Homo sapiens: one gene and its partners. The protein of the gene in region 1 interacts with the protein of each later gene in a pairwise test. Each region holds a gene or a part of one and is shown in the gene's direction. Other genes may lie near its edges. The genes, in order: M1AP, POLR3GL and CRX.

Region 1 (3,750 bases):
AGTGTTTCTCCTGCCTCAGCCTTCCGAGTAGCTGGGATTACAGGCATGCACCACCATGCCCGGCTAATTTTGGATTTTTAGTAGAGATGGGGTTTCTCCATGTTGGTCAGGCTGGTCTCGAACTCCTGACCTCAGGTGATCCACCCGCCTCGGCCTCCCAAAGTGCTGGGATTACAGGCGTGAACCACGGAGCCCAGTCGTGGCAGTAGATTTCTAAGGCAGCAGCTGATGCCCTTGGTCAGTTACACTCCTTGTAGTTTAAAGTCTGCAAGGTGCTTTCTCATGACCATTATAGTTTATCACCCTCAGAAAACAATTCTTATGTCATAGTCCCCATTTCTGGTACAGTTCTTTGCATATTTTTAATAAATGCTATAGAGGGTACGGAAAGAAATTAATAGTAGGTAGGAGCAATGGGTGGTATGGTTTGGAGTGAGGCTAGTGCTCAAGTTTGAATGCGTCCCCCAAAGTTCATTTGCTGGAAACTTAGTACCCAATGGAATAGTGTTCAGAGGTGGGGCCTAACAAGAGGTGATTAGGCCATAAGGGCTCTGCCCCCATAAATGAATTAATGTCATTATCTTGGAAATGAGTTAGTTATTGAGAGAGTGGGTTTGTTGTAAAAGTGAGTTCAGCTCCCTATTGCTGTCTTGCTCTTTTGTACCCCTTGCCCTTCTGCCTTCTGCCATGGGATGACACAGAAAAAATGCCCTCACTAGATGTGGGATTCTCAACCTTGGAATTCCTACCCTCCAGAATTTAAGAATACATTTCCTTTATTTACAAGTTAGTTGTTCTGTGGTATTCTGGTATAGCAACACAAAGGGGAGTAAGACAGGTAATGCTGGGGTTGAGCCTAGTAAGGTAGGTGGGGTCAGTTATAATGGACCCTCTAACCGAAAAGGAAACATAAGCCATTTTTAAGACAAAGAATGATATGATCAAAATATTTTTACAAGGACAATTCTAACATCAGTGGAAACGATAATCTGGAGATTAGAGACAGAAAGGCTAATTTGGACTATATGGGGGGAAAGAGCTGTTGAGAAGCTACCCTTTAAACTGAAACACAGGAACTCTATTGAATATCAGATTATAGTGTTTAAAAAAGGACATAGGTTAAATAGTTCTGTTCTTACCTGAGGAACAGTTGATAGGAGCAAAATGGTTTAGTGGGACTAGAATACAAGCAGGCAACTCTTTTCCTGTTGAAACATCTAACCTATCCTGTGCCACTCATTGAAATATTGCCCCACCCCACCTCCAACCTGCATCTAGACAATGAACTGAGAAAATAACAATAATAATAATAAAGAAAACAAGGAAAACTGCTTGTACATTTCTAGCTTGGAACTAGCATTATCTTTCCCTCTCCTGTGGACTAATTCAGAGAATTCCTTTTTAACCAGAGTTGAAGACCCAGACCAACCAACTGTTAAGGACCAGGACGCTCCTACCCCATCTGGAGTTCGTCAAAGGGACTATGGGAATCAACCTCAAGTAAGCGAGAATGAGTATGAAGAGAGCGACAGACCCTCTTGGAATACAGGAGTTTGAAAAGACTTAAAAGAACTTTGTGAAGGCAGCTATAACTTCCATGAGGGCAGTGACCATTGTCTGTACATCCACTGTACTCCAATCCTAGCACAATGCGTGGCACATAACGTGCCCACCACAGATGTTTAGTGAACAAAATAGCGACTGGCTGAAGGAAATGATGTGGAAGGGAAAAGTTAAAACCAAGAAAACGGTCGGTGGGGGAGCTACTGGCATGTTTCATGGGAAGGGGTAGAAAAAGAAAAATGTCAGGTTTAGCACAGCATTTCCAACAAATAGACAAAATTCTACCTAAGGGACAAAGAAGGACTGTTCTCAGGGTATCTAGGGACTTGGAGACCGTTTTCCTGAAGCGCCACCTGAAGCGCACCCTGAGGCAGCCAGGCCCCGCCTTGCCCGCAGTGAGCCTCCCGCCCAGCCGCGCCGGCCTGAGGGGGGCGCCTCCGAACGCGCGGGCGCACGCTGAGAGCCGGGAGGACCAGGTGAGGGGGCCTCCGTCTTCCGAAGACAGGTACGGTTCTCCACGCCTCGGGGAGGGAGGGCAGCCCGAGAGCAGCCGGCACCACTTCGCAGGCTGGGCTGGGCGTGGGCCGAGCTCGGGCCAGTCCTCAGGCAGGTGTTGGTTGCGCTGGCCGTGGCGGGTGCCGGCGCAAGACTGACGCCGAGAGAGGCTCCGAAATCGCTGTCGGAGTCATCCCTCCGCATACTGTTCTGGGCGGCCAGGCCTGCGCGGAGTCTGGGCCCGGAGCTTCCTCCGCGGGGCCCCCAGGCCCGAGGGCCGGGCTGCTGATCCGCCAGGCACGGTAGGCGCCATGCCGAGGGACCACGGAGGCTTCAGGGAGCCACGAGAATTTTTTTTCTTCTGGTTTTGCTTTGTTTTTGAGACGGAGTTTCACCCTTGTTGCCCAAGCTGGAGTGCAATGGCGTGATCTCGGCTCACTGCAACCTCCGCCTCCCGGGTTCAAGTGATTCTCCGCCTCAGCTTCTCGAGTAAGCTGGAATTACAGGCTCCCGCCACCACGCCTGGCTAATTTTTTTATATTTTTAGTAGAGACATGGTTTCCCTATGTTGGCCAGGCTGCTCTCGAACTCCTGACCTCGTGATCCGCCCGCCTCGGCCTCCTAAAGTGCTGCGATTACAGGCGTGAGCCACCGTGCCCGGCCACGAGAATGTTTTCATTTCGTTTAAAGTGAACCCATGAAGTCAAAGAAAGTGTTTTGATTTTTTTCTCACATCAGGAGGGGGAAATGAGATTTTTAGGGCCTACAAAATCCATTAACTTCTTTTAATCTTTTTTTAATGGAGGAAGGGGTCCACGAAGACGAAAGTGCCTTAGGGCCCACGAAATCTTTAATAGGGCCCTGCCAGAGGGAGAACCATTGAATCGTTTATCACGCGACAAAGTGAATGAGGGCTTGTAAAGGGGCCCTAACCTAGAATGCTCAGCACGGAACAGAACATCCGCAGAGGCAGACACAGCGAGAAGCCGATCTGTGAGAGGTGGATCTCCCGGGGTGCGGGCAGGGGAGGGCCTAGTGTGAGGATGGAGAGTTGGGCAGAAGGCACAAGCAGAACTTTAGGGCCAGGGTAAAGATATTGGATTCTGTTTCCAGTGGTGTAATTGGAAGTCCTTGGAGGGTTTTTAGTTTGGGCATAACTTGGTGGTTTGGAGTGGTTCAAGGCCCAGTTCCAGTTTTAACCAGTTTGCAGGGAGAATTCATTAAGCGAGTGTTCTTGGCAAAAGTGGAGAGTATAGGGTCAGAATAAGGTCAGAGCCTGTTTAGTACTATGCCCAGACACATCAGATGCATGAATTGATGATGTTTGAGGATGTAAGGAAGAGAGCTGCCTCTTACCTCATTTAAAATACAGTCTTCCAATTGCACATTAGTGTGGGATTGAAAAATGACTGCAAGCTGAAACCATTCAAAGAGATCTTAAACACCAATGGGAAAAATTACAGTTGTTCTATAACCTTGAAAAATTGTCAAAACACTAAAACTTTCTTACTAACTGTATAGGGAAATGTAAAACAGTAAAACTATTTCATACACTAACTTAAAACATTAGAAACATTGAGAGCTAAAGTGTTTTATTTGTTGAAAAAAAACTCTCATAGTAAAACTTATGAGAGAGCAAACATTTTTTGTGTGTCTTGGCAAACTGACATACTTCTTTCTAAGTTTGGGTTA
Region 2 (3,750 bases), on another chromosome or scaffold:
TCTTATTTTCTCTGTCCACATCCACTCCTTTAGGGGTCTCACCTAGTCTCATGGCTTGAAGTATTGTTTGTTTGCTGATGCCTCCACTGGAATGAAAGCTCCATTTAAACCCCGTGGGTGCAGCATGTTTTTGTCTGTTTTGCACACTGCTATATCCATAGAATCTAGAACAGTGCCTGGCACACCTAGTAAGCACTCAGTAAATATTTGTTGAGTGAAATGATTCTATTATTGTTATTTTTATTCCCATTTTACAGATGAGGAAACAGGTTTAGAGACAATAAATAAATTACCAGAGTTTTGTAGCTAGGAAATTGAACTGGGATTCAAAACCATATTCTTAACCTCTACATGTACTGCCTTCCTTAAATTTGATGTAATTGTTAGTGTTTTTCTGTATGTTTAGTTGAAACCTGCCTCTCAGTAACTTCCACCACAATATATATGTATGAATAATTGGGAATGAGCATAGTGTATATGAGTGTTGTTTGGAGTAAAACAGAGTACAGGGGTAAACTCTCTGGAAAGGTTGATGTTAAGGAGGAGCAGATTGTGACTAGATTATGGGAGACCTTAAGTATCCTCAAGAATTTTAACTCCATCACAATCTTTAATAGCAGAGACTCCCTATAGATTCCTAAGATGAATGGGGCAGATGGATGGTTTATTTCCCAACCTGTATTAAATAAAATTTTGTCTTCTTTTTCCCCTGCATTCTTAGAGGATCACTCATTTAATGTGTAGAAATGGTGTGGAATTTGTCTAACCTCAAACTCATGGCCATTTATTGACTCTTCATTGCTTTGCAGTCACAGCAGCTCCTATCTCCACTGCCAGAACTATATCTGTCAAGTGGAAAGATACTTAACCAGCTGGTTAGAATGTTCTCTCGCTTAAAAGGGGCTGAAGACACGGTGACAAATTCTTTTTTTTTTTTTTTTGAGACAGAGTCTCGCTCTGTTGCCCAGGCTGGAGTGCAGTGGCACAATCTTGGCTCACTGCAACCTCTGCCTCCTGATTTCAAGTTATTCTCCTGCCTCGGCCTCCTGAGTAGCTGGGATTACAGGCGTGCACCACCACGCCTGGCTAATTTTTTGTATTTTTAGTAGAGACGGGGTTTCACTTTGTTGGTCAGGCTGGTCTTGAACTCCTGACCTCGTGATCCGCCCACCTCAGCCTCCTAAAGTGCTGGGATTACAAGCATGAGCCACCACGCCCAGCCAACAAATTCTTATTATTTCTCTAGTCTCCATGAGACATCTTCTCTCCCTTAATATGCTCTTTTCAAACAGATTGCAATTTGATATCTTAACCAACAGCCATTGTTTCCTCAATTTTTTTTATGGCAGTTGGGCTTGAAACTTCCCAGATTCCTCAGATATACATTTTTCTACCCTCTCCTAGCTACAGATTATTAATCTCATTTAGTATTCTGTTACGACATTTAAATTTTATTTATCTATTTATTGAGACACGGTCTCACTCTGTTGCCCAGACTGGTGCACAGTGGTGTGATCATAGCTCACTGCAGCCTCGACTGCCTGGGCCCAAGTGATCCTTCTGCCCTGGCCTCCCAAAGTGCTGAAATTACCTCCATGAACCACCACAACTGGCCCATTAAAAAAAAATTTTTTTGAGACACAGTCTCGCTCTTTTGCCAGTCTGGAGTGCAGTGGCGCCATCTCGGCTCACTGCAACCTCCACCTCCCGGGTTCAAGCGATTCTCCTGCCTCAGCTTCCTGAGTAGCTGGGACTACAGGCGCACACCACCATGCCCAGCTAATTTTTGTATTTTAGTAGAGACGGGGTTTTGCCATGTTGACCAGGATGTTCTCGATCCCTTGACCTTGTGATCCACCTGCCTCGGCCTCCCAAAGTGTTGGGATTACAGGCATGAGCCACCATGCCCAGCCAAAAATTTTTAAATTAATATTTTAATGTTGTTATAGTATTCTATTCAGTATAGAAAAAAACAAAGCATACATAACCTGGCTGGGCATGGTGGCTCATGCCTGTAATCCCAGCACTTTGGGAGGCTGAGGCAGGCAGATCACGAGGTCAGGAGTTTGAGACCAGCCTGGCCAACATGGGAAAACCCCCTCTCTACTAAAAATACAAAAATTAGCTAAGCATGGTGGTGGGTGCCTGTAATCCCAGCCACTCAGGAGGCTGAGGCAGGAGAATTGCTTGAACCCGTAAGGTGGAGGCTGCGGTGAGCCGAGATTGCACCACTGCACCACTCCAGCCTGGGTGACAGAGCAAGACTCTGTCTCAAAAAAAAAAAAAAAAAGATACACAACTCTCCCCACCAGAAAAAATTCAAAAAACCCTCATCCTTCAAATTAACCGTTGTTAATTTTTGGTACATATCCTTCTATAACAGATTTTTAATTCATATGTGTGTATGTATTTCTGACAGAAGATTACCTTCTACATATTATTTTTAAATATTTTTTTCACCAACTAATCTCTTGGGAATTTTGAATTGCTACTTGATTTTTGTTTTAGCTTTTTGTTTTGAGACAAGGTCTCTGTCACCCAGGGTGAGTGCAGTGACATGATCATGGCTCACTGAATCCTCTTATCTCCCGGGCTGAAGCGATCCTTCCACCTCAGTCTCCCACGTAGCTGGGACTACTGGCATGTGCCACCATGCCTGGCTAATTTTTTTATTTTTTGTAGAGATGGAATCTCACTATGTTGCCCCGGCTGGTCTCAAACTCCTGGACTTAAGTAGTCATCCCACCCCAGCCTCCCAGAGTGCTGGGATTACAGGTGTGAACCACCACGCCCAGCCTCGAGTTTTTTTTGTTTTTTGTTTTTGTTTTAATTAATAGATTATATATTTTAGAACAATTTAAGACTTACGGAAAAATTTAGCAGATAGTGCCAAGAGTTCCCATTTGTCCCAGTGCACAGTTTCCCCTATTAACATTGTAGATTGGCCGGCCGCGGTGACTCACGCCTGTAATCCCAGCACTTTGGGAGGCTGAGGCGGGTGGATCACGAGGTCAGGAGTTCGAGACCAACCTGGCCAAGATGGTGAAACCCCGTCTCTACTAAAAATACAAAAACAAATTAGCCGGGCACGGTGGCGGGCTCCTGTAATCCCAACTACTCGGGAGGCTGAGGCAGGAGAATCGCTTGAACCCGGGAGGCGGAGGTTGCAGTGAGCCGAGATCGCGCCATTGCACTCCAGCCGGGCAACAAGAGCGAAACTCCATCTCAAAAAAAAAAAAAAAAAAAAAAAAAAAAATGCCGGGCGCAGTGGCTCATGCCTGTAATCTAGCACTTTGGGAGGCCGAGGCGGATGGATCACCTGGTCGGGAGGTGGAGACCAGCCTGACCAACATGGAGAAACCCCCTCTGTACTAAAAAAAGTATAAAATTAGCCAGGCGTGGTGGCGCATGCCTGTAATCCCAGGTACTCAGCAGGCTGAGGCAGGAGAATCGCTTGAACCTGGGAGGCGGAAGTTGCAGTGAGCCGAGATCGCGCCATTGCACTCCAGCCGGGCAACAAGAGCGAAACTCCATCTCAAAAAAAAAAAAAAAAAAAAAATTGATTCGTATATTTGTTACAATTAATGAATGAATACTGATACATTATTATTAACTAAGGTTGATACTTGATTGACATTTCTTTGGTTTTTACCTATTGCTCTTTTTCTGTACATGAATCCCATTTAGGATTCCACATTATATTTAGTTGTCACGTCTCCTTAGGCTCCTCTTAAGTGTGACGGGTTTCTC
Region 3 (3,750 bases), on another chromosome or scaffold:
GATATATGTGCGTATGGTGTATATATGTATAACTGTACGTGTGCATGTTTGTATTAGATGGGTGGATGAATATGTGTATGATGTATGTATGATCATATCGATGGGTAAATGCAGGCATGATGTATGTGCGTATGGTGTATGCATGTATAATTGTACGTGTGCATGTTTGCATTAGACGGATGGGATGAATGCACATGGGTATGATGTATGCATGTGTTCATGCACACATGCAGGTATGATTGGATGGATAGATGGATGGATGGGTGAATAGACGCCCCACAGCTGGATGCAAAGTAGACAGATGTGAACCCAGCACCTCTCACCAATAAGTGTCCTCATCCCCGGGCACCCTGCGGCTCTCCTGGGCCTCTTCCCCACTTACCCACCCCCATCTCCGCTCTTATCCCCCAGGTTTGGTTCAAGAACCGGAGGGCTAAATGCAGGCAGCAGCGACAGCAGCAGAAACAGCAGCAGCAGCCCCCAGGGGGCCAGGCCAAGGCCCGGCCTGCCAAGAGGAAGGCGGGCACGTCCCCAAGACCCTCCACAGATGTGTGTCCAGACCCTCTGGGCATCTCAGATTCCTACAGTCCCCCTCTGCCCGGCCCCTCAGGCTCCCCAACCACGGCAGTGGCCACTGTGTCCATCTGGAGCCCAGCCTCAGAGTCCCCTTTGCCTGAGGCGCAGCGGGCTGGGCTGGTGGCCTCAGGGCCGTCTCTGACCTCCGCCCCCTATGCCATGACCTACGCCCCGGCCTCCGCTTTCTGCTCTTCCCCCTCCGCCTATGGGTCTCCGAGCTCCTATTTCAGCGGCCTAGACCCCTACCTTTCTCCCATGGTGCCCCAGCTAGGGGGCCCGGCTCTTAGCCCCCTCTCTGGCCCCTCCGTGGGACCTTCCCTGGCCCAGTCCCCCACCTCCCTATCAGGCCAGAGCTATGGCGCCTACAGCCCCGTGGATAGCTTGGAATTCAAGGACCCCACGGGCACCTGGAAATTCACCTACAATCCCATGGACCCTCTGGACTACAAGGATCAGAGTGCCTGGAAGTTTCAGATCTTGTAGAGGACGCAGTCTCCATCTCTCTCCATCGGGCCTCGGGACCCTTTCTCTTCTGAATCTGCTTCCCTGCAGTTTAGATCCCGGGATGGCATTCCTGAGAAAGCAACCCGAACCAGCTGTCCTTCTGACAGCTCGGTGTTCAGCTTACAGAGACCACCCCTTTCCTCCACAGGGAGAGGCTCCTCCCTCTCCTGGGACAGCTCACAGGTCCTAGTGATTCTCTCAACCCTAACACCGTCTGGCACGATTGTGACCGCTGAAGTACACCACGAGCTCCAGGCTTCAGAAAGTGGTGCTGAGAACTTGCTCCAAGAAGAAGTCAAACCAAACTTGCAGTTGATTTGGGGTCATGTTTAGGTCAGAATCACCGTGCCCTTGAACAAGCAGGTAGGGGGGCTTGATAACTTAACTTTCCACGTGGACAGAATTTTTTTTTTTGTTTTGTTTTTGTTTTGCAGACACAGTCTAGCTCTGTCGCCCAGGCTGGAGTGCAGTGGCACGATCTCAGCTCACTGCAAGCTCTACCTCCCGGGTTCACGCCATTCTCCTGCCTCAGCCTCCCGAGTAGCTGGGACTACAGATGCCCACCACCAGGCCCGGCTAATTTTTTTTGTATTTTTAGTAGAGACGGGGTTTCACCGTGTTAGCCAGGATGGTCTCGATCTCCTGACCTCGTGATCCGCCCGCCTCGGCCTCCCAAAGTGCTAGGATTACAGGCGTGAGCCACCGCGCCCGGCCCTTTTTTTTTTTTTTTTTTTTAATTGAGACGGAGTCTCACTCTTTTGCTTAGGCTGGAGTGCAGTGGTGTGATCTCAGCTCACTGACTGCAACCTCCACCTCCCGGGTTGAAGCGTTGCTCCTGCCTCAATCTCCCAATTAGCTGGGATTACAGGTGTGCTCCATCATGCCCGGCTAATTTTTCTATTATTAGTAGAGACAGGGTTTTACCATGTTGGCCAGGCTGGTCTGGAACCCCTGACCTCAAGTGATCCGCCTGCCTCGGCCTCCCAAAGTGCTGGGATTACAGGCATGAGCCATTGTGCCTGGCCCTACACGTGGACACTTCTTTAGCATATGGTTAGGGACCTTTCTAGAAATTCCAAAGACAGACTTTAAGAAGCCCCGTCGGGAAACCTTAGGCCAATGATGTGGTTACATTAAAAATAAATTATCTGGGAATTTCACAGACTTCACAAATGTCAGGCTTACATGGTAGGTTTAGGGGACCGTTTGAGAGACAAAGATCTACATTCATATATGTAGCTATACATATATGTACTTTTTCTTCTTAGTTTCTTTTTAAAGACATTTTATCACTCATTCGCTCATTAGCACATTGGGAATGTGTGTATTTGGTAGGGAAATGAAAGGCACCTTGCCTGTTCCATCTCTACTCCTTTTTTCTTTTGTTTTAGGATTTTCTAAAGGTGAGACACTGGTGGAACTGGGGTAGCTGCTTGGGACGTACCACCTATAGTTGTGGCTATTTCACAGAGAAGCAGCAGCTAGACAGACTCCCATCTGTAAATAAACAAGAGATAGGAAGAGGGGGAAATAGATTTGGAGGAGGCAGCCCTACATTTCAAACATACATTCCCTTTTTTAGATTTTTTTTTTTTTTTTTTTGGTTTTCAGTTTTGATGGTGGGATTGGAAAATAGAGCTTGGCTTGAGGACATTTTCCTGGGGTGGCACCATTATTTCTTGAAATAGAATCTTACTTATGGTGACACTGGCAAGCACTTGTGAGAACCTGAAGACGGATTGAGGTCATTTGATGCTCAGAAGTTGGGTGCTGGGTCCCTGCCTTCTCAGTCCGAGTTCTCCTTTCATTTTTGGGTGGGGAGGCGGGTTCCAAGAGCCCTTCATTGGTGGAGTTCACAAGGCAAGGTGTAAAAAAAAAAGTAGGGCAGGAAGACAGTGGTGTGCTGGCAGAGGTCTAACAATGGGCTCTCCAAGGAAGAGGAAAAGGTTGGTTGTGGAGTGTTTGTCAGTTTCCGTGGTGTAAATACTCCCACCACGGCTGACTTCAAGCTAGCAACCGGAGGTCACTGAACTAAGAGTTGGGAAGAGATAGGGCACAATATATGCTTACGAGTTGGTACACACCGTCAGCAGCAGCCAGGGTCAGGAGAAAGGCGAGATGTGAAGAGAGGCCGGGAGGTATCAGATGACGTTTCCAGCACTAGACCAGAAGAGGTGCACACAGCCTAGACCCCCTGAGGGGTACACCCTGATCTCTAGAGCCCACAAAGAGGTTTTTATTCAACATAAAACGTGTTCATCTCTCATAGGCCTGAGTCATGCTGGGTTCTGGGACATTAAGCCCAGGAGTGGGCCGGGTGCGGTGGCTCACGCCTGTAATCCCAGCACTTTGGGAGGCCGAGGCGGGTGGATCACCTGAGGTCAGGAGTTCGAGACCAGCCTGGCCAACATGGTGAAACCCTGTCTCTACTAATAATACAAAAATTAGCCGGGCATGGTGGCACGCGCCTGTAATCCCAGCTACTCGGGAGGCTGAGGCAGGAGAATTGCTGGAACCCGGGAGGCGGAGGTTGAAGAGAGCAGAGATTGTGCCACTGTGCTCTAGCCTGGGTCACAAGAGCGAAACTCCGTCTCAATAATAACAACAACAAAAATAACCCAGGAGTGGCTCAAGAGTCCAGTGTGGGATGAAAATATAAACAGAGGAAGA

The links.
Region 2: the proteins of M1AP (region 1) and POLR3GL interact in binary tests that used the Homo sapiens proteins (3 or more experiments, as listed by UniProt).
Region 3: the proteins of M1AP (region 1) and CRX interact in binary tests that used the Homo sapiens proteins (3 or more experiments, as listed by UniProt).

Annotation. Positions count from the first base shown.
Region 1 is NC_000002.12:74,646,583-74,650,332, reverse strand, and holds the start of M1AP (meiosis 1 arrest protein), read left to right. Parts: upstream 1-2,002; 5' UTR 2,003-2,068; exon of another isoform or gene 2,069-2,996; coding exon of another isoform or gene 2,997-3,058; intron 3,059-3,750. UniProt on the Homo sapiens protein: Required for meiosis I progression during spermatogenesis.
Region 2 is NC_000001.11:145,967,649-145,971,398, forward strand, and holds part of POLR3GL (DNA-directed RNA polymerase III subunit RPC7-like), read left to right. Parts: intron 1-3,750. UniProt on the Homo sapiens protein: DNA-dependent RNA polymerase catalyzes the transcription of DNA into RNA using the four ribonucleoside triphosphates as substrates. Specific peripheric component of RNA polymerase III which synthesizes small RNAs, such as 5S rRNA and tRNAs.
Region 3 is NC_000019.10:47,838,909-47,842,658, forward strand, and holds part of CRX (cone-rod homeobox protein), read left to right. Parts: intron 1-411; coding exon 412-1,059; 3' UTR 1,060-3,750. UniProt on the Homo sapiens protein: Transcription factor that binds and transactivates the sequence 5'-TAATC[CA]-3' which is found upstream of several photoreceptor-specific genes, including the opsin genes.